Linked DNA regions of Homo sapiens: regions 1, 2, 3, 5 and 6 are each reported to be linked to region 4. Evidence: microRNA targets listed by miRTarBase, many of them from high-throughput screens and not tested one by one. Region 4 holds a microRNA gene; each other region holds the end of a gene's coding sequence.

Evidence for each region. The annotated mature microRNA hsa-miR-766-3p reads ACUCCAGCCCCACAGCCUCAGC and lies in region 4 at 3,113-3,134, opposite strand. An mRNA with a match to its seed (bases 2 to 7 or 8) in the 3' UTR can be bound and repressed. Matches are read on the target gene's strand: a 7mer-m8 pairs with bases 2 to 8, a 7mer-A1 pairs with bases 2 to 7 and ends in A, and an 8mer does both.
Region 1: miRTarBase lists PLEKHG2 as a target of hsa-miR-766-3p. Seed matches in the 3' UTR shown: 7mer-m8 at 2,848-2,854 and 7mer-m8 at 2,539-2,545.
Region 2: the mRNA of RELT is a reported target of hsa-miR-766-3p. Seed matches in the 3' UTR shown: 7mer-m8 at 3,257-3,263.
Region 3: miRTarBase lists BAX as a target of hsa-miR-766-3p. The part of its 3' UTR that is shown has no 7-base or 8-base seed match.
Region 5: miRTarBase lists DOCK7 as a target of hsa-miR-766-3p. The part of its 3' UTR that is shown has no 7-base or 8-base seed match.
Region 6: miRTarBase lists PPIL6 as a target of hsa-miR-766-3p. Seed matches in the 3' UTR shown: 7mer-m8 at 971-977 and 7mer-m8 at 2,222-2,228.

The regions. Positions count from the first base shown.
Region 1 is chr19:39,424,839-39,429,924 of GRCh38, reverse strand. PLEKHG2 (pleckstrin homology and RhoGEF domain containing G2) reads right to left here. Exons shown (of 19, transcript NM_022835.3): 19 at 1,510-5,086. The coding sequence ends at 4,631. Among named protein-coding and RNA genes, the nearest start is that of RPS16, 8.6 kb to the left of the region's middle. RefSeq lists a silencer at 1,162-1,456 and an enhancer at 1,227-1,872.
Region 2 is chr11:73,394,565-73,399,650 of GRCh38, reverse strand. RELT (RELT TNF receptor) reads right to left here. Exons shown (of 11, transcript NM_152222.2): 9 at 4,917-5,086; 10 at 4,366-4,564; 11 at 2,177-4,207. The coding sequence ends at 4,160. Among named protein-coding and RNA genes, the nearest start is that of RELT, 21 kb to the right of the region's middle.
Region 3 is chr19:48,961,247-48,966,320 of GRCh38, reverse strand. It overlaps BAX (BCL2 associated X, apoptosis regulator), which reads right to left. Exons shown (of 6, transcript NM_138761.4): 6 at 4,523-4,789. The coding sequence ends at 4,685. It overlaps FTL (ferritin light chain), which reads right to left and starts at 1,012. Exons shown (of 4, transcript NM_000146.4): 1 at 712-1,012; 2 at 405-551; 3 at 1-40. The coding sequence starts at 813. RefSeq lists enhancers at 723-772, 2,322-2,431, silencers at 1,023-1,182, 3,953-4,122 and cis regulatory regions at 2,113-2,613, 3,553-4,073.
Region 4 is chrX:119,643,651-119,648,736 of GRCh38, forward strand. MIR766 (microRNA 766) reads right to left here and starts at 3,198; the gene lies at 3,088-3,198. The region is part of intron 5 of SEPTIN6 (septin 6); the gene reads right to left. RefSeq lists an enhancer at 4,252-4,431.
Region 5 is chr1:62,451,050-62,456,049 of GRCh38, forward strand. DOCK7 (dedicator of cytokinesis 7) reads right to left here. Exons shown (of 50, transcript NM_001367561.1): 50 at 3,677-4,407. The coding sequence ends at 4,365. USP1 (ubiquitin specific peptidase 1) reads left to right here. Exons shown (of 9, transcript NM_003368.5): 9 at 1-755. Among named protein-coding and RNA genes, the nearest start is that of USP1, 17 kb to the left of the region's middle.
Region 6 is chr6:109,388,396-109,393,481 of GRCh38, reverse strand. PPIL6 (peptidylprolyl isomerase like 6) reads left to right here. Exons shown (of 8, transcript NM_173672.5): 8 at 545-3,267. The coding sequence ends at 656. Among named protein-coding and RNA genes, the nearest start is that of CD164, 8.5 kb to the right of the region's middle.

The DNA of each region.
Region 1 (5,086 bases), not on the chromosome of region 4:
AAAAAGGCCAGGCACGGTGGCTCATGCCTGTAATCCCAGCACTTTAGGAGGCCGAGGTGGGTGGATCACGAGGTCTGGAGTTTGAGACCAGCCTGGCCAACATGGTGAAACCCTGTTTCTACCAAAAATACAAAAAAATTAGCTGGGCGTGGTGGCACTCGCCTGCAATCCCAGCTACTTGGGAGGCTGAGGCAGGAGAATCACTTGAACCCCAGAGGCAGAGGTTGCAGTGAGCCAAGATCGCACCATTGAACTCCAGCGGCAGAGGTTGCAGTGAGCCAAGATCGCACCACTGAACTCCAGCGGCAGAGGTTGCAGTGAGCCAAGATCGCACCACTGCACTCCAGCCTGGGCAACATAGGGAGACTCCGTCTCAAATAAATAAATAAATAAAATAAAAAGTAAAGGAGTGGGGGGCCGGGCGCAGCAACTCGTTCTTGTAATCCCAGCGCTTTGGGAGGCAGAGGCAGGCAGATCACTTGAGGTCAGGAGTTCGAGACTAGCCTGGCCAACACAGTGAAACCCTGTCTCTACTAAAAGTACAAAATTAGCTGAGCATAGTGGCACGTGCCTGTAGTCCCAGCTACTCTGGAGGCTGAGGCAGGAGAATCGCTTGAACCCAGGAGGTAGAGGTTGCAGTGAGCTGACATTGCGCCACTGCACTTCAGCTCTGGGCGACAGAGCAAGACTCCTCCTCAAAAAAAGAAAAAAAAAGAAAAAGTAAAGGAGTGGGGTTCATGGAGCATCAGGTAGGTGGTTGTTGGAGGTGGCCACATCCCTGTGAGGTTGGTGACACAGGATGAGAAAACTACCCTAGTGGCAAAATGTTTTGCGGCTCGCCAAGTTTTGCATCGCAGCCAGAGTTAACTCCGGTTAACTGGTTTAGCTGGCATTAACCTAAATGTCCCAGAGAGGACAGCAGGCACCATCCTTATCCTTTCGGAGCCTGATTTAGCTGTAGCTCTGAGGAGGACTGGGCTCAGAACCAAGGTAGGCCAGCAGGAAAGGTATTCCTGAGAAGGCGACAGAGCTGGGGCTGGGAAGCAGCAGTAGGAGTTGGGCGGGAGGGAGGAATGGAATTCACAGATGCCAGGAGGAGGGGTGGAGGCAAGCCTGGCGCCCATGGTTTTCCCAGGGGGTCCAGAGACCCCCTTATTGAGGCTCCTGGCTCTTTCCCAGAGGCACAGCTGGGACACATCTGGACTGGAAAGGGGCTTGCCTCTCCTTCCCAGCTCCAGGCCTTGGAGTAGACAGGCCCCTTCTCCCTCCCTGCCTCCTCGAATACCGGGAATTCCGACGCCGCTGGGAGCCTGGGCCAGGCTGAGAACTTTCCTTCAGCCGGGAATGTGCAGCTGGGGCGGAGGAGGGGAGCGTCGGCTGCGGTCCTGACCTTGGGGAGGCTCCAGTGGAGTGGATCACTCCAGGCTGAGGAGTTCACCTCCGTCACCACGGGGCCCCCGGGACACAGCCTCGGCCCTGGTGTACAGTAGCCAGTCAATAAACAGTAAGTGAGCAGAAGCCAGCAGCTAATATTTATTGAGCCAGGCCCTGTGCTGGCAACTGTGCTCAGCTAATTATCAGAATCCCCTGAGGTGTGCACAGTACCAGGCCACAAGCCTCATGCGGGCAAGGCAGTGTTCTCTCATGTATCCCCACTGGCAAGAACAGCACCCGGCACAGGATAGGCACATTTATTTATGTATTTCATTTTATTTTTTTGAGACAGTTTTGCTCGTCTCCCAGGCTGGAGTCTAGTGGCGCAATCTCGGTTCACTGCAACCTCCACCTCCCAGGTTCAAGTGATTCTCCTGCCTCAGCCTCCTGAGTAGCTAGGATTACCGGCACCCACCACCACGCCCAGCTAATTTTTTGTATTTTTAGTAAAGACGGGATTTCACCATGTTGGCCAGGCTGGTGTGGTCTCGAACTCCTCACTTCAAGTGATCCACCTGCCTTGGCCTCACGAAGTGTTGGGATTACAGGCGTGAGCCACCGCACCTGGCCAGGACAGGCAAATTTAATGGTAGACTTAAGCCAAGCTGTGTGGATTCGAGTCTCAGTGCTGCACCTTCCTAGCTGTGCGACTAGGCAAATCCCTTAGCCTCTCTGTGCCTGCCTCAGTTTCCTCACCTCTAGACTGAGGATTAAAAAACATGCTCACTTGCATATTAGGAATGTAATGAGGACAGTGAACGAGCTTATATAAAGCGGCTGTAATGCTCATAGTATGTGCTTAGTACCCAGGAAATCTCAGCTTATTTGCTGCTAACTGATTGCTAAAAATTCAGATTCCTGGGCAGGGTATGGTAGCTCACGCCTGTAAACCCAACACTTTGGGAGGCCGAGGTGGGCGGATCACCTGAGGTCAGGAGTCCAAGACCACTATGGCCTGGCCAATATGGCGAAATCCCGTCTCTACTACAAAATACAAAAATTAGCTGGGCGTGGTCGTGGGCGCCTGCAATCCCAGCTAGAGGCAGGAGAATCACTTGAACCTGGGAGGCAGAGGTTGCAGTGAGCCGAGATCATGCTATTGAACTCCAGCCTGGGCAACAAGAGCGAAACTCCGTCTAAAAAAAAAAAAAAATTCGGATTCCCAGCCAGGAATGATGGCTCACGCCTGTAATGCCAGCACTTTGGGAGGCCGAGGCGGGAGGATCACGAGGTCAGGAGATCGAGACCATCCTGGCTAACATGGTAAAACCCCGTCTCTACTAAAAATACCAAAAAAATTAGCCGGGCGTGGTGGCGGGCACCTGTGGTCCCAGCTACTCGGGAGGCTGAGGCAGGAGAATGGCGTGAACCCGGGAAGCGGAGCTTGCAGTGAGCCAAGATCGTGCCACTGTACTCCAGCCTGGGCAACAGAGCGAGACTCTGTCTCAAAAACAAAACAACAACAACAACAACGAAAAATTAGCTGGGCATGGTGGTGCACGCCTATAATCCCAGCTATGTCGGGAAGCTGAGGCATGAGAATTGCTTGAACCCAGGAGGTGGAGGTTGCAATGAGCCAAGATTTTGCCACTGCACTCAAGCCTGGGTGACAGAGTGAGACTTTATCTAAAAAAAAAAAAAAAAATCAGATTCCCAAGCTCCTCCTTCCCTGGGGATCCTGATTCAATAGGTTGGGACTAGATACTGGGGGATCTGTGATTTGAATGATGCTCCTAAGCAAGTCAGAGGTTCAAATATGTTTGGGAAGTGGAAGGATATGCTCCCTAAATCTTTCAATGATCCCAGGAGGGAAGTACTGTTGTCTTCATTTTGTAGATGAGAAAACCGGCTCAGAGGGAGGACCCACACCAAATAAGTAAAGATGGGACTTGAATTCACAGCCAGGACACCAGGGTGCTTCAGAGAATCCTAGGGGAGCTTACATAAATAATGTGCTAAAGCACAAGAGGCTAAGTATTTGATGAAAGTAGCTAATATCATCACCAAAGAAACCGTTTAAATTGTGCCTCTCACTGGGCATACCACTGCTGGAACAAGGGGGCAGACAGAACCTAACATAAAAGCCTTTTGTCTCCACGACCTGAATTATTTTGCTGGGGGAGGGAGCATGTGGATGAATTGTAGAGGCTGCAAACTGCGGGGAGGAGTGAAGGGATCTGAGGTATGTGAGTGGGTACAAGAACTGGGATATTCAAGAGGAACTGACGGGAAGGATGCCAAGGGAAATCAGACAGATGTGGGACAGACTTATCCCAGAGCCCCAAAATTGATCTCCCCCGTATCAGCATGGAATTGTCTCTGAAGTATCATAGTACTAAGACCCCGGAGAGTCCAGTGAGGGAGGGATGGGGTATGTCGATGGATTGGGAGATGGCTGGGTGAATATGTATGGATGGCAAAATGAGTGGATGAATGGACAGATGGAAATATGGAGGGAGAGACGGACTGATGAACGGAGTGCTGGATGGAGAAGATGGGTAAGTGGGAAGATGGATAAATGGAGGGATGGAATGCCAGATGGGGTTAGAATGATAAAGGGATGGGTGGGTGAATAAGGCAGACAGTTGGATAAGCAAGGCAGATACGTGAGATGATGGATTGGAAGATGGGTAGATGGAGCGGGAAAGCTAGATGGAGCAATAGCCAGATGGATAGGTGGAGAGATGGCAGGGTGGGTGAGATGAACGGATGGTGGGAGACGTGAACTGTATAAATTGCCAAGGGAATGGATTTCTAGTGTCTACTTGAAGCAAAGCTTCTTAACTTGGCTTTCCTGGATGGGCATCAAGCAGTTCACACACACGCCAAGTTATAGTGGGTCCATTTTCCAATAATTCTCAAAGGAGTCTGAGATTCCCCAAGCTTTCAGAACCGCTGATTTGTTCTGTGTCAGACCTTCCCATTCATTGTCTTGTCATCTCCCACAGCCTCCAGAATGGGAAAATACACATCATTGCATGAAAGAATCAGTATTAACAAAACATTAATGACATTCCTCCCTTCCCCATCCCTGTGGATCAAGGCAAGAAGGGCCATTCGCCGATGCAGATACCAGGAGTTGGAAGGCCGCAGCAGTTTTGAGGCCTGCGTTCAGTGTCTGGACTTCCAGGTCAAGTTCTGAGGGTCTATGGCATCTGGCTGAAATCCTTGCTTCAGGGAAGCCTCATGTCCTGGCTCACATGTGGAAGGGGGCATCAGGAGCCCCCTGGGCCCTGTGAAGGCCCATAGATTCCTGTGTGGAGGCCAAGAGAGCAGGGTGGTTCAACCGGACCTGGGCCTTGGCTGGCCGCAGCCGCCCACCCCCGCCCACGTGGATGTTAACCGTCGTGGCATAGCTGAGCCGCCTGGCTGGGGGAGGTGGTGGCTGGGGCTGGGGGGGCGGCGAAGATGCCCGTGACGTGGGAGCAGAGGACCAGGAGCCCCGGGAGGCTGCGGGGGCCCCTCCCCCAGGCCCCTGCCGCCGAGCCAGGCTCTGGCTGATATATGAGGCTGCCAGGTATCTGGAGAGGGCAGCTGCATTGGGGCCCAGGAGCTGACGGCTGGAAGGTGGGGGACTATGAGGTGGCGTCAAGTCTGAAGACTCCAACCTGGCAACGTGAGAGGCTAAGGAGCCTCCTGGTTTGGACAAAAC
Region 2 (5,086 bases), not on the chromosome of region 4:
TCCAAGAACTCAGCCTCCTCACCTGGAAAGGAAACAGGCCAAAAGAGGCCAAGTAGCTTGGCTCACACTGCAGCTGAAATGAAAACTTTTAGGCCTCCTTACTCTCTAATGCCTCTCACCAAATCTCACCGTGTGCCTCCACCCAGCCTCCCTTCCTGTCCTTGATCCAATATGAAACCCACCCCCAGTGTCCGAGGGGGCACCTCTGGCCACAGGCATTGTTGGGGCTGAGTCACCATAGTCAGTTTCTCCGGTGCAGGAAGGGATTTTCTCCCAGAGGGAGGCTCAGCTCCAGGTCACAGTGGCAGAGCTGAGGGCCAGGAGCAGGAGGGGAGGTGGAGACTTGGGTCCCAGCCCCTACCATTCTGGCCCATAGGGAAGAGGGGTGGAGCACAGAGGTCAAGCTCAGAACTCTTCCCCTCAGTGGTCAGCCCAGAACCCCACCCTGTCCTCCAGCTCCCACCTCCGCGTGGGCCTCTTGAACTCAAGCGCTGACAAAGCTTCAGGGATTTAGATGGAACAAGCCAGAAAAGCTTCCAGGTGAGGGTAAGGACCCTGAAGACCAAGGGCATCAGACACACTCCTACTTGAGCCCTCAGCTCTTCATCCCACTCTTGCAAGCTAGCCTCAATACCCCAAGGGACAGGTGAAGAAACAGGCCAGGGCCACACCTTTCAGCAAGCAGAAATTGGGGAGGGGGAGTCTGGAGGAGAGCACAGTGCTTACTGTGAGGGGGCGCTCAGCCCTGGCCTGGAAGCCTGCACCCAGCCTTGGTGCACCCTGGCTTGCATGTGTATGTACCTCTGCCCAGGCGAGACAGGCAGGCTGTGGAGAGGGCATCTAGACCCCACAGCCCAGCCTTCCCCTGGGGAAGGAGGCTGAGGGCCAGTCAAGGTGGAGAGGCCAGACCCTGAGATGCAGCTGAGCAGCTGGCAAATAGGGACTCCAAACACACTCTGGCAGCCGCAGGAAATACTTATTTGGGTACACTGGTGATGCCTGCTAGTCCCCTACAATGGACACCCTGTCCTACACTTTGGCATCCTTTTCTGCTCCAGAACATCCCTCCTGATGTCCAGCCTCTGTTTCCTTCCCCTCTTCTGGTGCAGGTGAAACATCTCCTGGATCTTCAGAGGTGTCCCTCCCCTTCCTGCCCACCTGAAAAGCCCTGGAGAGAGACACCTGTGCCCTAGGTACCCAAGGAGAGTCAAATCCCAAAGCACATCTGCCCAGGGTAGGAGGAGGCCCCCAGCTTGGCTTCTGCTCAGGAGAAAGGCCCCTGCCCCCTGTGAAGCCAGGCCTCCCGACAGCCCCAGCATGGCCGCCCCATAGCTGCCCTGTGCCTGCTGCAGACAGGCCGGGGACTCCCACAGGCTGGTCCTCTCCACACCTCCCCAGGTTCCATCAGGTGTCACTCTTGTTCTTCAGCCTCTCTCTGAGGCCGTTAGTTTAAATGTGTCCCTCTCTCCCGTCTTTAGACAACATAACAAACAATAAAACCCTAAATTAACTGAAAATTGTCTCTCCCCAGAGCCTGAGGCCCCACCCAGCTATGGCCTGCCAGGCTTCGGCAGGGAGCTGTCTCCCTCAATCCACCTGGCCCTGGCCCTGGTCTCCCCTCTCCCTTTAGGCGAATCCCACCAAGTTCCTGTGCCACTCACCAGGGCACAGAGCAGTCCTCCTCACCCCCCAGCAGCACCTGGCCTTGCAGCCCACCCTGCGCCCACCCCTCCCCTGGCTGCCAGGACACTGCCACGGACGTTGCCCTCCCTGGTTTCTTTCCTGCCTCCCTAGCAGTGCCTTCTCTGTGGTGCCCTGGAGCAGCCCAGGCATCGTCCCCAGGACATTTCCTCCCAGCCCAGTCCTGGCCTAAACACCCACCTGAGTGCCTGTAGGTCTTCTTGTCTCCAGGTCTGTCTCCTGAGAGCTCTGGGCCTTCACATCTGGATGGCATGGGACATCCTCCATGGCTGTGTCACAGGTGCCCCCAGGACTGCTCCTGTTGCCCCACCCAGCTGGCCCTAAGCCCCCGACCCATTTCCCATTACCAAACCCTAGCACAGGGGTGTCCAATCTTTTGGTTTCTCTGGGCCACATTGGAAGAATTTTCTTGGGCCGCATATTAACACTAACAATAGCTGAAGAACTAAAAAGAAAAGAAAAAAGCAAAAACATCTCAATGTTTTAAGAAAGTTTATGAATTTGTGTTAGGCCCCATTCAAAGCCATATCCTGGGCCACATGCGGCCCTTGGGCCGGGTTGGAAGCTTGCCCTAGGAATTTTAGATGGAGACGCTCTGTCTTGCCGGGTGTAGCACCCGCTCCTGTGGCTCCTTTCCTCTCCACACTGGCCAAGCAGGAGCTGAATGCTTTGGAGGCTCCCTGGGCATAAGGCCCAGGTGACCACTATGTGTTGGTGCTCAGCCTTTGCACATGCTGTCCCTCTCTGTGGAACACATTCCCTGGCCCGCACATCTTCCTCACCCCCAATTACCTCCCGGGCTCCACACAGTGCATTTCCTCAGGTGCTGCGCTGACCAGTGTGGTAGCTGCTGGCCACGTGGCTATGGAGCCCTTGAAATATTTGAGTTCCAATCAAGATGTGTAAGATACACTCCAGATTTCAAAGCAAAAGCAAAAACAGCTCATTCACACTTTTTATACTGATTTTATATTGAAATGAAAATATTTTGGATAGACTGGGTTAAAAAAAAATTAAGTTCACCTGCTTCTTTTTACTTTTTGAAATGTGACTGTCAGAAAATTTAAAGTCACATATGTGGCTCACACTATTTCTGTGGGACAGCCCTGCCTCTAGCTAGGGGCTTTGGTGAGAACCAGATGAGTTGATGGGTCTCCTCTGGGCCCTGCTTCCCTGGCTGCTGAGGTGCAGGAACTGTGAGGGGAGGGCAGCCTGTCACGGTGCCCAACACAGGGCAGGGCTGGACAGGTACAAGTGGAACAGGCGGATAAGCTGGGAAGGGCACAGAGAAAAGGAGCTCCTCGTGACAGCACTTTCCCACCTTTTATTATTCAACACATGGAAGGGGGTGGAGACACAAGGATAGGGCAATGGTGAGTTTCAATAAATAAGAGAAACAGGATGGACAGGCAGTGGGCCCATGCCTGCACGGCCCCACATAAATAACCAGGTTGCTGAGCCAGAGTGGAAGTCAGGGCTGGGCCTGGCAGCCGCCTGCACTGCCCAGAAGCACTGGCACCACAGGGACACAGAAACCACTGAGGCCCAAGGTGTGCTCCAGCCCCACCAAGTCTTCTCCCTAAAGCTCCTGAGATCTTGGGGCTGGCTGGGCAGGCTAGGGCTCTGTATCACAGTCCTGCCGGGATCAAGTCTATTTTTTCAGTTTCATTAAAAACAGCTGGGGGAGGGGCAGGCACATGCATTAAGCCCCTTCCGTAGGCAGAGCCATGGATGGACAGCCCCATGGGGGCCTTGAAGGCAGAGGCCCTGGAAGCAGCAAAAACGGGGCTGGATAAAGCTACTAATGGGAGGGATGGTAGAGCCCAGCTCCCCAGTCCCCCACAACCCAGCCCAGAACCTACAAAGAGCTGAAGAGGCCCTGGGTACTGAGACGTCTCTCCTTACTTCACAGTCAGAAAAATGGACCCAGCGATGGCCACAGATGTGCCCAAGATTAGAACCCAGGGACTCACTCTCCTAGCCCAGGACTTTCTGCTACCCCTTCCCTTTATAGACCTGCTGGAAGAGGAGGGGGACGCACATCTGCTCTAGGGCCCTGTACAGAGGCAAGGGTGTGGCTAATTACCAAGGAATGGGGCCAGGGGTGACGGGCACAGGCCCCTCCCCTCTGCCAAGCCCAGCCTCTGATGATACAGAGAATCCCGTGGGCTCCTAGGATCCAGCCAGGGCAGGCACGGGGGTCGGGGCATCCTTCAGGGGAGCAACATGGCAGCAGGGCCAGGGGCGGGGCTCAGCCTGCTCCTGTACACAGTGCCCGCCGGCCACCTGCCTCCTCACTGGGGCAGACGCTCCCACCTCCAGGCCTTGGTCTTTGCTGTCTCGTCTGCTGGGCCATTGCTTCTCGGTCCTCACAGTCCCAGCTGCAGCTCCACCTCCTCCAGGAAGCCTTCGGAACCTCCCAGGGCAGGGCCGCAGTGTCCTTAGACTAGACCGCCCCTCAGATGACCAGGTTGCTCTCACTTAGCCGGACCACATAGCGGTTCTCCTGGTGGGCAGGGGTGAGGGGTCAGAGCTGAGTCAGGGGCTGGCTTCTGGCTCCAGGAAAGTGGCCCCTGCCTAGGGCCCGCTGCACTTCCACCCCTGCCCCGTCTTCGGTCAGGGTTGGCCCAGGTGCCAACAGATGCCTTTCTCCTTGACTCTCACCTCGGCCTTGTTCTCTGCTGGGGGCTTCAGCCACTTTGTACGGCTTCCGCCACTTCCTAGCAGGGCCTGCTGCTCAGGGGGGAGGCCAGGCTGTGGGGAGTCAGGGAGATCACCCCACGAGGGCCCAGCCTCCGTGATGGTCTTCACCTCAGACACCATTGAACTTGTCCGCTGCTCAGGAATTCGAGCCACGCGGAACCTGTGAGGAGAGTGGGGCAATCATCCCCGTTAGCGGGGATCCCGGGGCACAGAGAAGGCAGCACGTGCCCGGGGTCACACAGCAAGTTCATGGACCAGAGCCTTAGCCTGAGAGGCCCGGGTGCCATGGGGGCCAAGATGCTGCCCTAGGGATGCAAGGGCTCCATGTGAGACACAACATAACCGGAAAGTCCTGATCTCTCTGGCCGCCTCCACTGCCCAGAGAGGCCCAATAAGGGCAGGGCTCCCATTGAGCAGGGTGCTCAGGGCCCAAGCTGGGGCCCTGCCTCCCCCTCCCGGCCCCCAGGCTGTCACGTCTTTACCTGCCCCTGCTGCATCTGTGCCCATCTCACCTGCCCACAGACAAGATGGTGATCTCGCCCTGACGCCCTGCCTTGGCCCCGGCCTTGGGAACCCTGGTCGGGTTAGGCAGAAGGCTGGGAACAGGAGTAGTGGCGGCTACAGCCTCAGGGGACAGCAGCACCTCGGGCCACTTCTTCTGGCTACAGCGGGAGCAGCAGGG
Region 3 (5,074 bases), not on the chromosome of region 4:
TGGCGTCTGGGGTTTTACCCCACTCATCTTCAGCTGGCTTCTATATAGAAGGGAGAAATGGCTCAGAATACACACACTCGGCACATAGAACTAAACCTACATTTCCCAAGAGTCGTTGGGGGTCAGAGGCCCAGGCCACAAAGACATGTGACAGCTTGTATTTATCACTCTCCGCACCCTGTCCTAGCTCTTACAGCTATACGTCCCTAAGACCACGCAGCGGTGTGGACTGCCGCGTGTTGTGGGCACTGCACGAGGTGCGCCTCTATTTCCAGCGGTTAAGAGGGCTCACAAGACCGAACTCAATCTCCCAGAAGCCCACGCGACACCTACGCCCTCAAATCAAGGCTCCTCGCGCGCACGGCCTGCTGGGAGATGTAGTCCATTACCCACACACTAGTTACCTTGATGTCCTGGAAGAGAGCGCGGCCGCCACGCTGGTTTTGCATCTTCAGGAGACGCTCGTAGCCCTCGCGCTTCTCCTCGGCCAATTCGCGGAAGAAGTGGCTCACGCCTTCCAGAGCCACATCATCGCGGTCGAAATAGAAGCCCTACGGGAAGAGATGGAGGCAACAATGGTTAGCGGGAGGCGAGGCCAAGGGGACTCCGCCCTCTGTTTACCCGACCGCACAAAGAAGGCTGGCGCGTGCAGTGAGGGCCGGAGGTGCGCAGCTGGAGGAAATTAGGGCCAGGGGCGTCCTGGGGACTCACCAGAGAGAGGTAGGTGTAGGAGGCCTGCAGGTACAAATTGACCAGGCTGTTGACGGCTGCCTCCACGTCGGTGGAATAATTCTGACGAATCTGGGAGCTCATGGTTGGTTGGCAAGAAGGAGCTAACCACAAAAACGGTGCTGGCAGGTCCCAGAAGCAGGAGATGGCCGAGAAGATGGTCCCGGAGGTTGCAAGCGGAGAGGAAATCGGAGGGCGGTCGGAGGCTGGAAGAGAGTCCCCGGATCTGTTCCGTCCAAACACTGTTGAAGCAAGAGACAGACCCGCGGGACCGCCGAACTGCGAGGGGACGTGGCTAGGGCGGCTTCTTTTATGGTGCGCCGGCCCTCGGAGGCAGGGCGCTCGGGGAGGGCTAGCGGCCAATCTGCGGTGGCAGGAGGCGGGGCCGAAGGCCGTGCCTGACCAATCCGGAGCACATAGGAGTCTCAGCCCCCCGCCCCAAAGCAAGGGGAAGTCACGCGCCTGTAGCGCCAGCGTGTTGTGAAATGGGGGCTTGGGGGGGTTGGGGCCCTGGGGCTGATTCTGGAAATGCAGGGGTTCGTGGGCGGGAGGGTGGGGGCTGGGGTCCCTCTGGGAGGCTAGAGTTTTATGGGAGCACTAACAGCCCTGTGAACTGATGACCCTGGGGTCCTGGGGTGCCTCGGGAAAGTAAGATTCTGGGGTTTCCGAGGGCATGGATTTTTCTGGAACCTTGAGTGGGGGGAGGGGCACCTCAAAGGTGCAGGGAGGACCTGTAGTTGCCTGAGGTTTGCGCTGCGAGATAAGGAGTCTCCGGATCCTTGGGAAGCTTGGAAGGCTGTGAGGTGTTATTTCTGGACCCCTGGAGATCTCTGGAAGATGGAGTGTTGCGGGGACTGGAGTCCTGGGATTTACAGGGGTGGGGGTTCACGATGCAAACTCTCTATATTTTGGAGCCCTCCCCGGGGAAATCTTTAGGTTCTTGAGGTGCTCTGCAAGTTGGAAAGGGCAGTTATTCTGGAGCCGTGGGTTTCACCCAGTGCGGGAAGCCCAGGAGGAGCATTGTATGAGGTAGGGTGACTTCTGGAACCCTGGACAGCCCTCTGGAACCCTCCAAAGATGGGCTGGGACTTTGGGGATACCTTGGAGCTCTTTCAGGGGCCCAGGCTTTTTCTGGGAGTGGAAATGGGGAGGAATGAAAAGTCTGTTTTGAGCTTTGCGGTGTCTCTGGGATTGCATTTCCTGGAGGCTGTTTTGGAGACAACTCACAGACTTCGAGAATTCTCCGTGGCCCTGAACAGTGTCTCTGAAGTTGCCCTCGTGTCTTGCCTGACGTGTGCTCCTTCAGGCCCACAAAGAGAAGCCCTGCGTTGTGGACAAACAGTCTGGGGACCTATGGACGAGACGTCTGTCTTCGACTAATGCATATTTTTTAAGTGGGCCTGGTCCACGTTGATTTCTGGGAGACGGAGTCGGCGCAAACCTTGACTCTACTTAAGTGCCCTGATGGAGGCAGCCCGTGCGCTGGGCAGGGAGCTGAAGCCACTGGGGTGTGGGGTGAGGTCAGGCCCTGCCCTACAGAGGAGCTGCTCCGAACAGCCCAGGCGGGGCAGCCCCTGACCGAGGGGATCTGCAGATGCCCCGCCAGGCCGGTATCTGGGGTCCTTGTTGCAGGCAGCGACTGCTGAGTCATGCTGAGCTCAGCGCGGGAAGGGGCCCCCGCGGGGACGGATGGGGGTGGGGCCACTCGCTGACCTCATCCCCTTGGCACTCCCCGACTTTTTTGGTGGGACCCTCAGAACTAGACCTGGCTCAGACCCAAATCGGGCCCCCTACCCCAAGGTCCCCCCTTGTTGGAAGCCGGCTGTGTGCTTTGTCTCCGTGTCTTTTTGGTTCCCATAATTTTTTTTTTTCTGGGATCCTGCCTGTGGCCATATTGTCCCCTCACTCTGGGTGGTGGCTCAGTGTACACTCATTGATCCTCTGCCCCTCTCTCTCCCCTGACTTGGGGTCTCTGGGAAGAGTCCATGGAGGAGGGGCAGCCGTCCAAAGCACCCCGTTGACTGTGGGGCCCGAGTTACTCATTTACCAAATGTCATACCTCAGCCCAGAGACCTTTAGTCGGCCGAGAGGGGCCTTGGGGCCCATAGGTGGAGGGAGAGGAGGGGCTGAGAGAGACAGGATCTGAAGACCATAGAGAACGTGGGGTGGGGAGACAGAGGCCCAGAGAAAAAGAGACTCAGACAGAGACCCTGAGAGAGAGGGGGACAGAGACCCAGAGAGAGGGGAAAACAGACCCGGAGACAGAGGGGTACAGAGACCCTGAGAGAGAGGGGAGGGGGACAGACCTAGAGAGAGGAGGGCAGAGACCCAGAGGGAGGGGAAAAGAGACCCAGAGAGAGGGGGGGACAGAGGTGGGGGGGGACAGAGGCAGGGAGGTACAGAGACCCAGGGGTGGGGGGGATAGAGACCCAGAGGGACCCGGCGGGAGGGGACAGAAATCCAGAGTGGGGGACAGAGATCCAGAGAGAGGTGGGGACAGAGATCCAGAGAAGGGGGTACAGAGACCCAGAGAGAGGGGGGACAGGGACTCAGAGAGAAGGGGACAGAGACTAGGGAGGACTGAGACCTGGGGGGGCGGGGACAGGGACCCGGGGGCGGGGGACAGAGACCGGGGAGAGGGAAAGAGACCCAGAGAGAGGGGAGGTACAGAGACCCAAGAGAGAGTGACAGCCAGAGAGAGGACAGAGACCCAGAGAGAGGGAGACAGAAACTCAGGGTCGGGGGACAGACCCAGAGAGAGATGGGGGGCCAGAGATCCAGAGGGGGGGACAGAGACCCAGAGAGAGGGGGCCAGAGGTCTGGGTGCCAGGGGTGGAAAGAGGCCCAGAGAAAGAGGGCCAAAGGTGGGGTGGGAACAGAGGCTCGGAAAGCAAAGACCCAGAGCATGGGGACAGAGACCCAGAGATGGGAGGGGGTAAAGACCCAGAGGGGGGTGCCAGAGACCCTGTGACTGAGAACCCACATCCTCTAGCCCCCTTGTCTTCGCTCCGCCTGTGTCTAAGGTCACTGGGCCTCTGAGCTCAGCACCTTCTTCCGGCAGTTCCTCTCCAGGGGGGCCCCACCCAGCTGTGGGGCCAGACCAGGTTCCTCCTCCTCTGCCCTGCCCTCCAGCCTCTCAGTCGCCAGCCAGGTCCCTTCCTCTCTGTCCTCAGCCCAGCTCAGGAGGCCTCTCCCGTGGGCCCTCGCCCTGGTGTCCTCAGCCTGCCACCCTCCAGCGACCTCACCACCAGGCTCCAGAGCCCTTCCTGCTCCTCTGGTCCTCCCATCCCTCCTCCCCCCACTCCCATTCTCCAGCTCGGTAAAGGTATGGCCTCCTGAGGTCCCACGTGTGACACGCCAGGCTGTGGTCCCCGGGCCGAGGAGGCTTGCTCTGCAGCCGGCCGTGCTGTTCTTCCCTTACCCACACGCCTGCTTGGGCCTCACAGGCCGCTGCCTCTGTCCCGCACAGATCATCCTGGGCTGCGACAGATGTACCACCTATCACCCTCGTTTCCCGTGAGCTCCCTTTTCCTTTCCCGTGAGCTCCCTTCTTTTCCTTTCCCGTGAGCTCCTGCAGGTCAGGCCCAGGACCAACTCATCCCTAACCCACAGACCCCACAGGGCACCCCAGAAAAAGATGTCAAGTGAGTGCAGAGAGCCCCACGTCCCTGAGTGGCCCAAGCAGGTATCTCTAGGCCAGCAGACGGCGGGCCCGGCGTGGGGCAGCGGACAGGGCCTGCTCTCCTGACGTGCCGGGGAGCGGGGCAGAGGCCCAGTGACTCAGATGCCGAAGTGTGTCCCGAAGGAGGTTTATTACCCCCTCAAGACCACTCTTCCCCACACCCCCCAATAATTACAAAAGTAAGAAAAATGCCCACGTCCCCCAATCCCCACCCCTCCCAGAAAAATGCCATAATTTATGGAGGAAAAACACAGTCCAAGGCAGCTGGGGGCCTCAGCCCATCTTCTTCCAGATGGTGAGTGAGGCGGTGAGCACTCCCGCCACAAAGATGGTCACGGTCTGCCACGTGGGCGTCCCAAAGTAGGAGAGGAGGCCGTCCTGGAGACAGGGACATCAGTCGCTTCAGTGACTCGGCCAGGGGCAGCCCCTGGGCAGGCAGAGGCGGGATCAGGGACGGAGGAGGCCAGAAGGCAGGATTGCGGGCAGGGGACTGAGATGAACGGGCATTAAAGAGCTGGACTCAGGCCAGGCATGGTGGCTCACACCTGTAATCCCAGCACTTTGAGAGGCTGAGGCGGGAGGATCGCTTGAGGCCAGGAGTTCGAGACCAACCTGGGCAACATAGCGAGACCCCTTCTCAGTGGGGAAAAAAAAAAAAAGGAA
Region 4 (5,086 bases):
TTGGTTTGATTTTCACAACATCCTTCTATGGCAATGATTAAAAGATCCATTCGTGAGCTGAGGGAACTGGGATACATGGAGGTTAAACGAGTTGCCTAGGTCCCTAACCCCCATGCCCAGATCCTCTGAAGCAGCAGCGAGGCCACCGAGCTTTGGCTGCCAACCTCTCCCAGCCACCTAGGGTGGTCCGCACTCTGCCTCCTGGCTACATGGCATCTGCTAGAAGGAAGCAAACCATGACAAGCAGGAAATCATGGGGACCAGGCTCTGGCCCTCTGTTCCACTGCTTTTGAGAGACAGATGGCTTTGACAACCAGAATAGAGTCGAGCAGAGCAGAGAGCAGATACCCACCCTCCCCCCGCACCACCACGGACCATACTTCTAGGTCCTACCAATGGGATCCAAATCTGAGGCCAGGCTTTCTGCTATTTTTCCCAGGTCTCTGCAGGAAACTGACAGACAGTGGTGACATTTTCTATGTGTGGACCCAGGGAAGAGACTCTGATAGATGCAGGGCAGTGTTGCTGCTGAAACACAAACAGGCCTCTCAGGAGAGTCTGTGTGACTCTCTCACTCAGACTTCCAATGAGGCGCCCTCGGATATCAGATTTCCCAGTGTCAGAAAACTCCAACAAGAGATAGTCGCAAGCCTTCCTTGGGAGTCCATTCCTAGATTCACCATCTGTCTTAGTGCATTTTGTCTTGCTACAGTAAACTACCTGAGACTGAGTAATTTATCAACAATAGAAATTTATTCAAAAAAAAAAAATTTATTCCTCATAGTTCTGGAGGCTGGGAGGTCCAAGATCAAGGCACCAGCATTCTGGTCTGGTGAGGACCTTCTTGCCGCATCCTCACACAGCAGAAGGACAAGCTAGCCCAACACTGCATGATGTCTCTTTAAAAAGGGTCTTCGGCCAGGTGTGGTGGCTCACGCCTGTAATCCCAGCACTTTGGGAGGCCAAGGCAGGTGGATCACGAGGTCAGGAGTTCAAGACCAGCCTGGCCAAGATGGTGAAACCTCATCTCTACTAAAAATACAAAAATTAGCCGGGCGTGGTGGCGGGCGCCTGTAATCCCAGCTACTCGGGAGGCTGAGGCAGAGAATTGCTTGAACCTGGGAGGCGGAGGTTGTGGTTAGCCGAGCCAAGATCGCACCACTGCACTGCAGCCTGGCCGACAGAGCGAGACTCCATCTCAAAAAAAAAGGGCCTTCATCCCATTAACAAGGGAGAAGCCCTCATGGCCCAATCACATTTTTTTTTTTTTTTTAAGATGAGAGTTTCGCTCTTGTTGCCCAGGCTGGAGTGCAATGGCACGATCTCGGCTCACTGCAACCTCCGCCTCCCGGGTTCAAGCGATTATCTTGCCTCAGCCTCCTGAGTAGCTGGGATTACAGGTGCCTGCCACCACGCCCAGCTAATGTTTGTATTTTTAGTAGAGACAGGATGTCGCCATGTTGGCCAGGCTGGTCTTGAACTCCTGACCTTGGGTGATCCACCCGCCTTGGTCTCTCAAAGTGCTGGGATTACAGGTGTGAGCCACCGCGCCTGGCCAGGCCCAATCAATTCCTAAAGGCCCTACCTTTTTTTTTTTTTTTTTTTTTGAGACGGAGTCTCACTCTGTCGCCAGGCTGGAGTGCAGTGACGTGATCTCAGCTCACTGCAACCTCCGCGTCCCGGGTTCAAGTGATCCTCCTGCCTCAGCCTCCCGAGTAGCTGAGACTACAGGTGTGTGGCACCATGCCCAGCTATTTTTTTTTTGAGATGGAGTTTTGCTCTTGGTGCCCAGGCTGGAGTGCAATGGCGTGATCTCAGCTCACCACAACCTCCGTCTCCTGGGTTCAAGCGATCCTCCTGCCTCAGCCTCCTGAGTAGCTGGGATTATAGGCATGTGCCACCATGCCCGGCTAATTTTGCATTTTTAGTAGAGACGGGGTTTCTCCATGTTGGTTAGGCTGGTCCCGAACTCCCGACCTCAGGTGATCCACCCGCCTCGGCCTCCCAAGTAGCTGGGATTACAGGTATGAGCCACTGCGCCTGGTAATTTTTTGTATTTTTAGTAGAGACGGGGTTTCACCATGTTGGCCAGGATGGTCTCGATCTCTTGACCTTGTGATTCGCCCACCTTGGCCTCCCAAAGTGCTGGGATTACACGTGTGAGCCACTGCACCCAGCCCCGACCTCTTAATACTATCATACTGGCCACACCTGAATTTTGGAGGGGACACAATCAAACCATAGCACCACCTTTACTGACTTGTGTCTAACTTAAATTCTTCTTGTACATTGTAAAGTACTTAATAATCCAATTGGCGTGAGTTACTTTATTCTTATTTCACCACATCCATTATACTTGGGAGGCTAGGTGACTGCTTAGCCCAGTGAAATACACACTGTCAGAACTCTTTATTCCTCATCTAATGATAATATTCTGATTGGGCTTGGTTTCCTCCCAGGGTGGACAGTGTTTCCCAGTTATGTTAGTCCCCATTTCAGGCCCCTGCTGGTGACTGAACAAGACCATTGGCTGATTTGCTCTCAAGTCAACCACTGGTGATTCCTGTAAAAGTACATGGCAACAATGGAAATACCATTGCTGTCTCAGAGGAAGGGATGGACTTGTGCCTGTGGGTCTTCCTATGACCCTACTGTTCAGCCATGTGTTCTCACTGGGCCCAAATGTCAATTGCCTTTGTGGGAACCAAACCCCAGACCTCACAAATGGACAATTAATGGAGCTCAGTCAATTAAGTAACTGGGCCTTTTTGCTGGTCCTGGCCATGCTTTCAGCCATTCAAAGAACATCATTAAATTTAAAATAACATAGCAATTCTTAGTATTAAAGTCTACAACCTTGAGAGATATCAGAGCATGGGTTGAAAATAGCATGCAACAAGACCTCGCTCTCCCTTCTCTTCCCCCTCAATCTACAATAAGGTTTTCTGGAGCCACCCATAATTCAAGGTGGTGGCAGGGACCTCATTACTCTCATTTCCTGCCACAAAAATCCCCCATGGTGAGAGACAGGACATTGTACAGTCTTCTCCACTCAGGCAACAGATTTCTTCCGCTTCTTCCAATCCAGCTCCTATGACAATTGGCTGGGGTGGCTGAGGCTGTGGGGCTGGAGTCAAATCCAAAATGAAAGACCAGCACCAATTCCTCCTACCACCCAAGCCCAGGTCCTGAGGATGCAGCTTCATACACCACGGCTTGTGTGAAGACTCTGGGGACTTTTGACATAGTTGTTCGGTGGCAGGCAGGCTAAGCAATCCTCTGTGTATATTTGATAGCACCCTCTTTCCCATCACAGCGCATGTAACACAAAACACTCACATGCAAGCTCCTCTCACAGGCATGCCAATTCAGGCACACTAGCTGTGAGGCCACTCCTCTCTTTCCCACTCAAAAAAAACCCATAGTGGATTAGCCGGGCATGGTGGTGCATGCCTGTGGTCCCAGCTACTCGGGAGGCTGAGGCAGGAGGATTAGTTGAACCCAGGAGGTGGAGGCTACAGTGAGCTGAAATTGATTGCATCACTGTACTCCAGCCTGGGCGACAGAGTGAGAGCCTGTCTCAAAAAAAAAACAAAGCACAGTAGGATGCAAGGGAGTAAGTGGTGAGTGATTTATGATAGGGATAATCCTGAATCCACTGGAATTCCCTGCTCCTCTCCTCTCCTCCCCTCCCCTCCCTTCCTCCATTCCTTCCTTCCTTCCTTCCACTGGAATTCCCTCCCTCCCTCCTCCCTTCCTTCCTTCCTTTTTATTTCTTTCTCTCTTTCTCTCTTTATTTACTTTCTTTTTCTTTCCTTTCCTTTCTCTCTCTCTTTTTTTTTTTTTGTGAGACAGGGTGTTGCTCTGTCACCCAGCCTGCAGTAGTGCAGTGGCTCGATCAGGGTTCACCGCAGCCTCAACTTCCCAGGCTCAAGTAATCTTCCCACTTTAGGCCACCCACCGACCAAGTAGCTGAGACTACAGGTGTGCGCCACAGCACCAGTTAATTTTTTCTTTTTTGAGATGGAGTTTTGCTCTGGTTGCCCAGGCTGGAGTGCAAAGGCGAGATCTCAGCTCACTGCAACCTCTGCCTCCTGGGTTCAAGCGATTCTCCTGCCTCAGCCTCCTGAGTAGCTGGGATTACAGGCATGCGCCACCATGCCTGGCTAATTTTGTCTTTTTACTAGAGACGGGGTTTCTCCATGTTGGTCAGGCTGGTCTCGAACTCTTGATCTGAGGTGATCCACCTGCCTTGGCCCCCGAAAGTGTTGGAATTACAGGCGTTAGCCACCGCGCCCGGCCACTAGTTAATTTTTTTTAAATTTCAGTAGAGATGAGGTCTCACTATGTTGTTCAGCCTCGAATTTTGTTTCTCAAAGTGAAACACAATTATGAGTAATAAAGGACCCAGAATCCCTTCACAGCCATAACAGCATGCTTGACAACTGCTGCTGCCTAGCTTGGGGGTTTCCAGCCTTGAGGTTGAGCCTACCCTAGGCTTAGCAGGAGGCCAGAGCTGAGCTGAGAACAGAGCCCAGGATGATTATCACTCCTAATCCATGAGGTACCAAGATGTGGTTCTGTGTGACACCTTGAGATGGCTGAGTACTCTCAGTCCCTATTTATTCTTAGCAAAGCAAACCACAAGCCTGCAAGCTGCTTGATGACTTAGGGCATCAGTGTTCAGAAGGTCTCTATGGGGACTGATGTCCTGAGGTGACTAGACGCTTCCAGACATCAGTGCCCGTGGCACCCAGATGACACTTCTCGCGAGGCTCCCGTTTTTCTGCAGACTAGGCTGTCTCTTCATAACAGAGCCTAGTTTCCATCAAAATGCCCTGACTTCTCGAGAGGACAAGTGCTAATCTTTTTTATTTTTTCCATGCCCACGGCCGGTCAGAGAAGACCTATCTCTACCTACCATGCTCCAGATAGCCTTACCCTTGAGCCAGATTTGTCTAAGATGGTGATGGTGATAACAAACACATCTCGGGTGTACTGATGGACAGGAAGTCAGGAGAGACAATGACTTGCTGCCCTGCTATGCTAATTTGTTGGCCAATTCATAGGAGGTGGCAGCTGAAGT
Region 5 (5,000 bases), not on the chromosome of region 4:
AAAGAATCTTTAGCTTATCTTTTGAAGCTACTGGATATTATTGGTCTCTCTAGGTTTTTATATAAATAGTGAAATTTGAATTACTGAAAACCATGTTAATTTTTAGAACTCATTTTCCTCAGTAGAGACTAGTGATGCATTAGCTTCTGGGAACAAACTTGTATCGGTTCTTAATTAAATTATCCAAAACGGAGGCATTTAAACACTTGGATTTACACCAGTCTTTTGTGTTTGCTTTTTAAAATAAAGTGCTCGTATTTGTATTCTCCATATTTTGGAGTAATTATCTACATGATGTTTATAGTTCCTGTGGTTTTTCACCCAAGAAGCAGAATCTCATTCAGTACATTTAGTTTTATAAGAGTCATGAAGCTAAATCCTTGGGCTATGTCAGAGGCACAAAGTCTAGAATGTGTGTATTCACAATGGTGTATGTACATTTTGTGCCTTGATTCACTTAGAAGTGTCTCAGAAAACCTGGACAGTTCGCTTCTACACAAGAATTTTATATGTATTTATGAAGATGATTCTGTACCCTAGTATATCTTTTTGGGCATGGACTAATTTGTATCTGTTTAACTCATATTCTGCACGATCTGTATATAGTACATCAAACTTAGAGGTGTGACCTTAAATTTAACTTTTTTTAAAAACTGGGAGGTCAATAAAATTTAAACTGCTTAACTATGTATATGAATATTTGAATTTTTTACTTGTATATTTTTATAAATACAGCTGAGTTTTCTTAAAGCGAATAAGTGTGTGTATATATATATGTATATATATGAGAGAATAAGCATGCATAATTACCTTTATTACTGAATACTTTCTGACAGTGCAGGAGTTTTTCAAAGAGGAGAAATTGTGCTTAGTCCAGCCAAGCTGTCATACTTAAAAGAGGTTTATAATGAAATCTGTTGCATCTAATTGTCCTTTAAAGTAGACATGATTTAATGGAATCCAAAACTGGAAAAGTTAAGATGATGCTTTGGGCACACATAAAAACTTGGTTAAAATTTCATTTTAAACTAGTATACTGAAGTGGTAAGTGATGAATGATTTCATGACTTGTTAATGGACATTCTTGGTACTAAGTTTTTCCTAGAAATGATTCTAAATATGTAAATGCTATTGGGGTAACACTTTAATACCCCATTTCAACAAGGAGTACCTTCTCAATTAAAAAAAAATCGCAGTAGGCTGGGCGCGGTGGCTCACGCCTGTAATCCCAGCACATTGGGAGGCTGAGGCTGGTGGATCACGAGGTCAGGAGATCGAGATCATCCTGGCTAACACATGAAATCCCGTCTCTACTAAAAATACAAAAAATTAGCCGGGCGTGGTGGCAGGCATCTGTAGTCCCAGCTACTCAGGAGGCGGAGGCAGGAGAATGGCATGAACCCAGGAGGCGGAGCTTGCAGTGAGCCGAGATTGCGCCACTGCACTCCAGCCTGGGCAACAGAGTGAGACTCCGTCTCAAAAAAAAAAAAACACAGTTACATAATGTCTTATATTCTTTCATAGGATGATGAGATGGTAATAAAGTCATGGTTCTCCCCACCTTTCAGAATCACTAATGGAAATCCTTAAACAGTCCTGAGCGCTACCTGTAAGTTTTGAATGGAATGGGTCTAAGATAGACACTGGGCCTCTTAATACTCGAGAGACAGCCAGTTCTAAGAACTAACACAAATTCCTGATGTGAGAAAGTTCCATTTTAAGAAAAATGAAGTTTGTAAGAGGTTTGTATCATACGAATGTTTAAGAGGAAGCCTCTGTTCTGAAGGATGTCAGAAAATAATTGGTTTTGCATAATTATATAAATCATAAAGTCCTTGATATTACTGAGATTTCTGAGATTTTTGTCCAAACTGTTATATAAATGTAACCTAATGAGAAGTGACCCTTCAGTGGTTCCTTATTCTCTCCCTTATGTTTATACCCACCACTGACCCCCAAAGAAGAAGGGAAAATGTCACTTTTTTTGGAGGGGAGGGATTTCCATTCTTGACTCCTTACCTTTCCTTATTGTTCATTTGGCTCCTCAAATAGAGTTTTGAGGTTATGCCCTTCTGACTCAGATTTGGTCTAACAATGTAGACTCATCTGAAAAATGTTTTTGTGATTCAGTCTTTGAATTGATATAGATAAGAGGAATTTGAGATGATACTGCCCATTAAAGTACATGGAGTGTGGGATATCAACCATCACTTAGGCTCTCAGAAGTAGATATTTTTTAGTATATTTTGAATATTTACTACATTGACTATAGAATGAAGGCAATACGTTAAATCTGACCAGTTTTTGTTTTTTTTTTTTGAAACGGAGTCTAGCTCTGTCACCCAGGCTGGAGTGCAGTGGCGTGATCTCAGCTCACTGCAAGCTCCGCCTCCCGGGTTCACGCCATTCTCCTGCCTCAGCCTCCCGAGTAGCTGGGACTACAGGCTCCTGCCCCCTCGCCTGGCTAATTTTTTGTATTTTTAGTAGAGACGGGGTTTGACTGTTAGCCAGGATGGTCTCAATCTCCTGACCTCGTGATCTGTCTGCCTCGGCCTCCCAAAGTGCTGGTTTTTGTTTTTGACTTAAGAGTCTTGCTCTGTCGCCCAGGCTGAAGTGCAGTGGCGCCATTTTGGCTCGCTGCAACCTCCACTTTCCAGGTTCCAGTGATTCTCATGCCTCAGCCACCCAAGTAGTTCGGATTACAGGCACGGGCTACTACACCTGGCTGATTTTTGTGTTTTTGGTAGAGATGGGGTTTCACCATATTGACCAGGCTGTTCTTGAACTCCTGGCCTCATGATCCGCCTGCCCCTGCCTCCCAGAGTGCTGGGATTATAGGCCTGAGCCACTGCACCCAGCCAATCTGATCAGTTCTTTTATATATATGTGTGTGTATGTATGTATGTGTGTGTGCGTGTGTGTACAGATGATAGTTTTTTTTTTTTTTTTTTTTTTGAGACGGAGTCTCTGTCGCCCAGGCTAGAGTTGCAGTGGCTCCATCTCTGCTCACTCCAACCTCTGCTGCCCGGGTTCAAGCGATTCTCCTGCTTCAGTCTCCCAAGTAGCTGGGATTACAGGCTCCTGCCACTGTGCCTGGCTAATTAATTTCTGTATTTTTAGTAGAGACGGGTTTTCACCATCTTGGCCAGGCTGGTCTTGAACTCCTGACTTCGTGATCCACCCGCCTCGGCCTCCCAAAGTGTTGGGATTACAGATGTGAGCCACCGCACCCAGATCTGGTTAGTTCTTAAGTGATTCATGTAACTGGTCAGTAGAAGAAAAGGATTATAAATGATGCCATTCTGTAAACTGCACTACTACCCAAAAACCATTGTTCTAAACTGTTCTGGAAATCATTACTATGCATCGTTTTGGAAAAACTTGCCAAGAATTAAAATGTTACTTCTCAAATTTTTTTTCTGTATGACTTGCATATAATTTTAGATGAATTAAAGCACCTAATTTTACTTTTTATATGCTTCTAAACTTTACAAGTGTCAGAAAATAGGTAATTTCTCAAACTCCAGCTGTGTTACCTTCATGGTGCTACAAGATAGCTTTAAGTAGATTCTAATTTACTGGTTTACATCGTCAAAAACTGATGGCTGGTTTTAATTTGAAACAGAGAAATCATTCATTTTAGTTGCTAAGAATCATGAAGTTCTTACTACTATCATTGGTGTAATAAGATTTAATCAAGTTAAGGTGTTGTCACTGGTATTAGTTATCCCCGTATTTAAATTATTTTACACAAAGGTTTTACTAAGTAAAGTTCTGCAATTCTAAATTCCTGTTTTGGGTATGTAAATGGAAAATAACTTTGAAACAGTTACCAAACTCATTAATTTGGGGCTATCTATGATTTTTATTCTGCTAGGTTTGGAACTAGTTCTTGAGTCAACCCTTTAATTGTTCTCTGCCATTGTCAATAATAAAAATTTTGAAGTCCCACTCGGTAAAATTAGTGTAAACATTCACATATTTAATAGTACCTTTAAAATAAGCATTACTACATTTAAAATGGTTCCAAAATGAATCTATAAATGGTAATATAAATTAAAAAATACGAACTTAAAGTGAATAAATTTTTAACCTTAGCTATGGTATAAATAATGGTAAATGTATAGTGTACCTTTGAGTCATTAAAATGTCTTAAAAGATAACAGCTTGTTACCAGAACATTAGAAACCATAGCCATGATTCTCAAGCGTTAACAATCTACATTTGATATTTTCTTGGCCACTGCATTCTTCAATGAATAATAATTTCCAGAATTCCATTCCATGTTGTTTTCCAATAGATCTTTTCACACTCGATGTTGAATACATGGCTCTTTGCAGATGAATAAAACAAGTGCATTCAGTTTAGAGATCCATTTTGCGAAGGCTCATTCGACTGAAGGAATCTCTGGGAAAAAAATGAGAGGACATAGTTAGTTAAAGAGAACAATTTTTGCATATACCTTTAAATGTCTTACATGGTTTTTTCTGCCAGTTACCTTAAAGTTTTGCCACCATTTCTTACTAACTTCCAAGTTGGATGCTCATCCTACCTACTCTGCCTTATATTTTGGCTTATAGATTTAGCTATAGAAGTGTATTACAGTCACCACTTACTGGTCTTTTGTATTCGTTTGTCTGACTGATGCTGCAGATATTGTAATAAACAAGACAAGGACTTAAGGGATAATGGGAGAGATTTTAGGAAAAGATTTGGGGTTTTTTACACGGCAAAAGGCAGGTGTTTATTAAATTTTAAGTCTTAAACCAGTTCTCAAACTTTGTCTCAGGTCCCTTTTACACTCTTAAAAATTATTGAGAACCCCAGGAATCTTTTATGTGGGCTATATATGGATGTTTATCATATCAGAAATTAAAACTAAGAACATCTTAAGTTACTATAAAATAACCCATTACATGTTACTATAAATAGCATTGCTTATTAAAAATGATCTGCAAGAAGCTTTAGGAGAGTGGTACTCATGTAGGAGTGTGGCTTAA
Region 6 (5,086 bases), not on the chromosome of region 4:
GGCCAAAATGGGAGGACTGCTTGAGGCCAGGAGTTCAAGACCAGCCTGGGCAACATAGCAAGATCCTATCTGTACAAAAATAAATAAACAAAAATATTGGCCAGGCCTAGTGGCACACACCTGGTAAGCACTGGCTACTCAGGAGGCTGAGGCAGGAGGATCACTTAAGCCAGGAGGTCAAGGCTGTAGTGAGCTAAGATCATGCCACAGCACTCCAGCCTGGGCAACAGAGTGAGACCCTGTCTCAAAAAAAAAAAAAATCACCCTGACTGCAGGGAGAAAAACAGAGGGGAGGGTGCCAAGCAGATGGAGGAAGCCAGCTTAGAGCTGCGGCAGGAGGCCAGCTGCCTGGATGATGGCCCTGGATACTGCAGGTGTGGTAAAGTGCACACATCCAGAGAGGTTTAGGATACTTAGAGCTGATGTTCATTCAATTTGTAGGAAATAGTCTTAGCTATAGCTGGGTAGGACCCCATTTCGGAATGTTAAGCTAAATATGAAAACTTATGACTGACTAAATTTTCCATTTTTTTCTCCTATGTAGGCAACTGATTGAAGGAACAGAAGTGCTTAAACAACTAGAATTAGTTCCAACACAGAATGAAAGACCAATACATATGTGTAGAATTACTGACAGTGGAGATCCTTATGCTTGATTTTCATATCAATATTTTCTGTGATAATTTATTACTTTGTATCTGATCAGCTGTTTGTGGATTTAATTAAAAAGTACTTGATAAATTGTAATTTGAAAGCCGTGGCAGACACTGTAGGTTGCCTCATCTACACCCAATCCCTCCCCATCTTCCTTTCCTGTCTCTGTCATAGAGACTGTGAAAGGGTGGTACTCAATTTCCTAGACTCCTTTGCAGCCACGGGTGGCCATGAGAGATGGTTCTGGCCAGTGGGACAGGAATAGAACGCCAGTGGTCCTGCCCCTTCCCCTTCATCCAGTCTGGAATGTGGAGAGGCTGGAGCTACAGCTGTCATCTTGTGGCCATAAAGAAAAGGCTGAGGCCAGGTGTGGTAGCTCACGCCTGTAATCCCAGCACTTGGGAGGCCGAGGCAGGTGGATCACAAGATCAAGAGATTGAGACCATCCTGGCCAACATGGTGAAACCCTGTCTCTACTAAAACTACAGAAATTAGCTGGGCATGGTGGCATGCACTTGTAGTCCCAGCTACTTGGGAAGCTGAGGCAGAAGAATCTCTTGAACCCGGGAGGCGGAGGTTGCAGTGAGCCGAGATGCCGCCACTGCACTCCAGCCTGGCGACAGAGAGAGACTGTCTCAAAAAAAAAGAAAGGCCAAGTACTGCAGAGATGTCAGCCCCAGTCTCTTGAGCTGCGGGACCAATACCAGCAACCACCTACTCTGGACTTCTTATTATAGGAGACTAACAGAGCCCTGTGTTGTGTTGTTTATGTTACTGTTGGTTGAGAATTTTGTTACTTGTGGACAAAAAATTCTTAATTTAGCAACACACCTGATAGCCTAAGACATTTGTAATAGAATTATGTTCTTGTTTGTAACTACATGTACTCCTAGGAGAAACTTGGTAAGTAACCAAATAGGAATGATGCAGAAGAAAAAGCAATTCATTGTAATATTTCATTGTTTATACCAGCATTCAGAAAGAGTATCTACACTTTGGATGTTTTCATATATGACATGAACATCATCCTTATCTCTCTGAGCCATACCAACCCTATGAAAACCAAGGGCTTGTTTTACAGTGTCCGTGGTGGCTGACTCATGTGATGTTATTGGAGATTCAGCTTTATCACTACTCTGTAATCTAAAGTTCTCAAGCTCATATCACCTGGGGAGCTTTTAAAATGTAACCTAACAGACCTTGTCCTTGACCTACTGAGGCAGAGTTCCCAGGCGTGGGGCAGAGATTCTGTGTTCATTTGGTTCTTTCCCCAGGGTTCCCAGGCGTGGGGCACAGATTCTGTGTTCATTTAGCTCTTTCCCCAGGGTTCCCATTTAGACAGCTGGGCACTAGTCATCTGGGAATCACTGCAAGACATAAGGAACTGGTTCCAGTCCCCATGGTGTAATGTAGTCAGCAGAGTGCTTGACTCTGCTATTGGTGACCTTGCTCAGCTCCTGTTACCACCACTACCCTGTGCCCCTGCTCTGCCCAGACTAAGAGTGCTTTTCTTTTTTTTTTTTTTTTTTTTTTTTTTTTTGAGACGGAATCTCACTCTGTCGCCCAGGCTGGAGTGCAGTGGCACAATCTCGGCTCACTGCAAGCTCTGCCTCCCTGATTCATGCCATTCTCCTGCCTCAGCCTCCCGAGTAGCTGGGACTACAGGCGCCTGCCACCACGCCTGGCTAATTTTTTGTATTTTTAGTAGAGATGGGATTTCACCATGTTAGCCAGGATGGTCCCGATCTTGTGACCTCGTGATCCGCCCGCCTCGGCCTCCCAAAGTGCTGAGATTACAAAGGCGTGAGCCACCGCACCCGGCTGAGAGTGCTTTTCTTACCCTAAGCAGAATGAGGTTTGTCTTCCAAGAACAATCTCTATTTACATCAGTCTTAAAGAGGCAGGCTTCTAATGGATATGAGGCTTGCCAAAAGTAGGCGTAGGCTTTTTTAACTTTTTATTTTGAAATATAGATTCACAGGAAGTTGCAAAAATAGTACAGAGCAGTCCTGTGTACCTTTCACCCATTTTCCCCAGTGGCTACGCTTACAAAACGGTAGTACAATATCAAACCAGGCAGCTGACATTGGTACAATGTGTGTGATGCCATTTTATCATGAGTATATTCATGTAACCAACACTATAGAGAAAATATAGAACCTTTCCAGCACCTCAAAGACCCCCTTCCAGTACCCCTTTACAGTCAACCCACTCCCCTGCCCTCTGCCATCCCTAACTCCTGACAACTGGCATTTGCTTTTCCTTTTAATGACAGCTTTATTGCTATATGACATATGCTTTATGCTAAGACCTGAGGTGGATGGGAGGAAGCAGACCGCCTATGTTACATTCTCAACTGACCCAGAGCAACATAGTGTTAAGAATGTGTGTTCTAGGGCCAGAATCCTGGCTCTGCCATTCCCTAGCTGCACAAACTCAGGCAAGAACTTTTCTGTGCCTCAATTCCTTCATCTGAGAAACAGTGGTACCTACCACATAAGATTGCTGTGAGGGTTCCATGAATCAATAATTTCTATAAAGAACCTATAAGAGACCTGGTCTGCTGTAAGCACTCGATAAATTTAATAATAAATTACTAATGTGTAACCTTCAGGGTGTAGCCTCAGAGCTTGGACTTTTTGAAAGCTCTCCAATGACTTTGATAGCCAGATTTGGGAATCCCTGAGGAGAGTCTCCCTCTTCCTGTACTCACAGACTTCTGGGCAGTCTGAGAACTCGGGTGATTTGTCTAGAGCTTCCAGACCCTCTCGCTGGGCCTTTGCCCAGGTTCCTCAGGTCACACTGGGGACATCTCAGACAAAAGGGAGCTGGGCTTGCCACCAGGATTCAAAACAATTGGTGAATGAAAACTGATTCTTTGCAAGGAGCCCGGTTAAAACACATGACAAGCGTTACTCATGTAATAACAAACAGCAGGGCAGTTCTTACTGGTGATGAACCTATATATTAATGGCATTAGGCATTTTATCTGATGTTGTGAAAGAACTGGGATATTTGTGTGGGTGTAAGAAACTGATTCCAGCTCCCTTTGTCAGCAGCAATAGAAAGGTAGAACTCTGCCAGTCTTCTCAAGGATGGCGAGTTCATGGTCCCTTTGTTCACTCTAACTTTCCACTTCTGGGCTGTGGAAACCTCAACCACAGATCCATGCAGTGGTTCTTATCACCAGCACTTAAAAGTATACACACTGATACTTCTGTGCTAGAATGATTTGTATGTTTAACCTCATAGTTGAAGAAACTGATTGTTAGAAGGACTCAAAAGTTTACTCCAATGAACTCCACATGTAAGACTTTGATTTAACCAAACTGAAATACACTAATTAAACAGAAGGGATTCTAGATTTTTCCACATCTACAAATAGGACAATAAAGGCCTTCTGATGATTTACACAAAATGCTAAGTTATATGTCTAAACTTGCCCTAATTGCTGATATGGCAAAGTCAAGTACATACGCTTTATCTTATACTAGGCCGTGTGAATAAGGGAGGGCATATCTAAACATTTTTCTTATATGGGGAGATTTGAGGTAAATATTTAAAATTCTATCCAAGGAATTTGTTTGCCCCTACTGCAAACAGTGCCAGTTATTTGTTAAGGAATGGATAATCTGGCAACCTCAGGATTCCAGACCCTGAGTTTTTATACATATTTTAAATGAAGCATTATTTGTTTGAGAACCACCTGTCCAGCAATGTGATGGTCAAATCACTTAACCTTTCACTGTCCCCATTTGTAAAAATAACAGAAGTTGAGTTGCTAGCTTTCTTCTGGCTCTAAAACTTCAGTGATTATTCTGAGGAAACGCATAAAATCAACAATTTTAAGTGAAATGGGGGTACATCTGTCTCAGTGTTCTGAGGATTGACACAGCAGGTGAATCTATTCACAGCAGGTGAATTATGAGAAGCACAGCACAGTGCTTCTAATAATGCTTGGCACACAGCAGATATTCCTTAAGAATTAGTTTCCCTTCAGAAATGTCTCCCCACGGAAACCAGTCAAGCTACCACTGACAGAATATCATCATCCTAATTTCAAGAAATATCAAGCTCTTTTTATACTGAGTATTAGCAGTTCTCACATCAGATTAACTTTCAATCAACTGAACTAGTTCAAAGGTATATCTTTAAAATTAAAATTGGTCTCTACCACACCTAGCAATATTCTCCCTTATGGAGACTCATTTTTTAAACTATATTGATCTTACCATCCCCTACACTTCCCAAAGTGGAATCACCACCACTTAAATCTGGCAAGTCTTAAGACTTTTGTATATCATACGAAATATTGGTGACTAACTCAGTAGTAATGTATACAACATGAATTACAAGTTGCATATTTGATAGAGGGCTTTGTAAGGTGATAAATCACAGGTTCTTTTACTTTAGCATGCATCAGAGTGCCTGG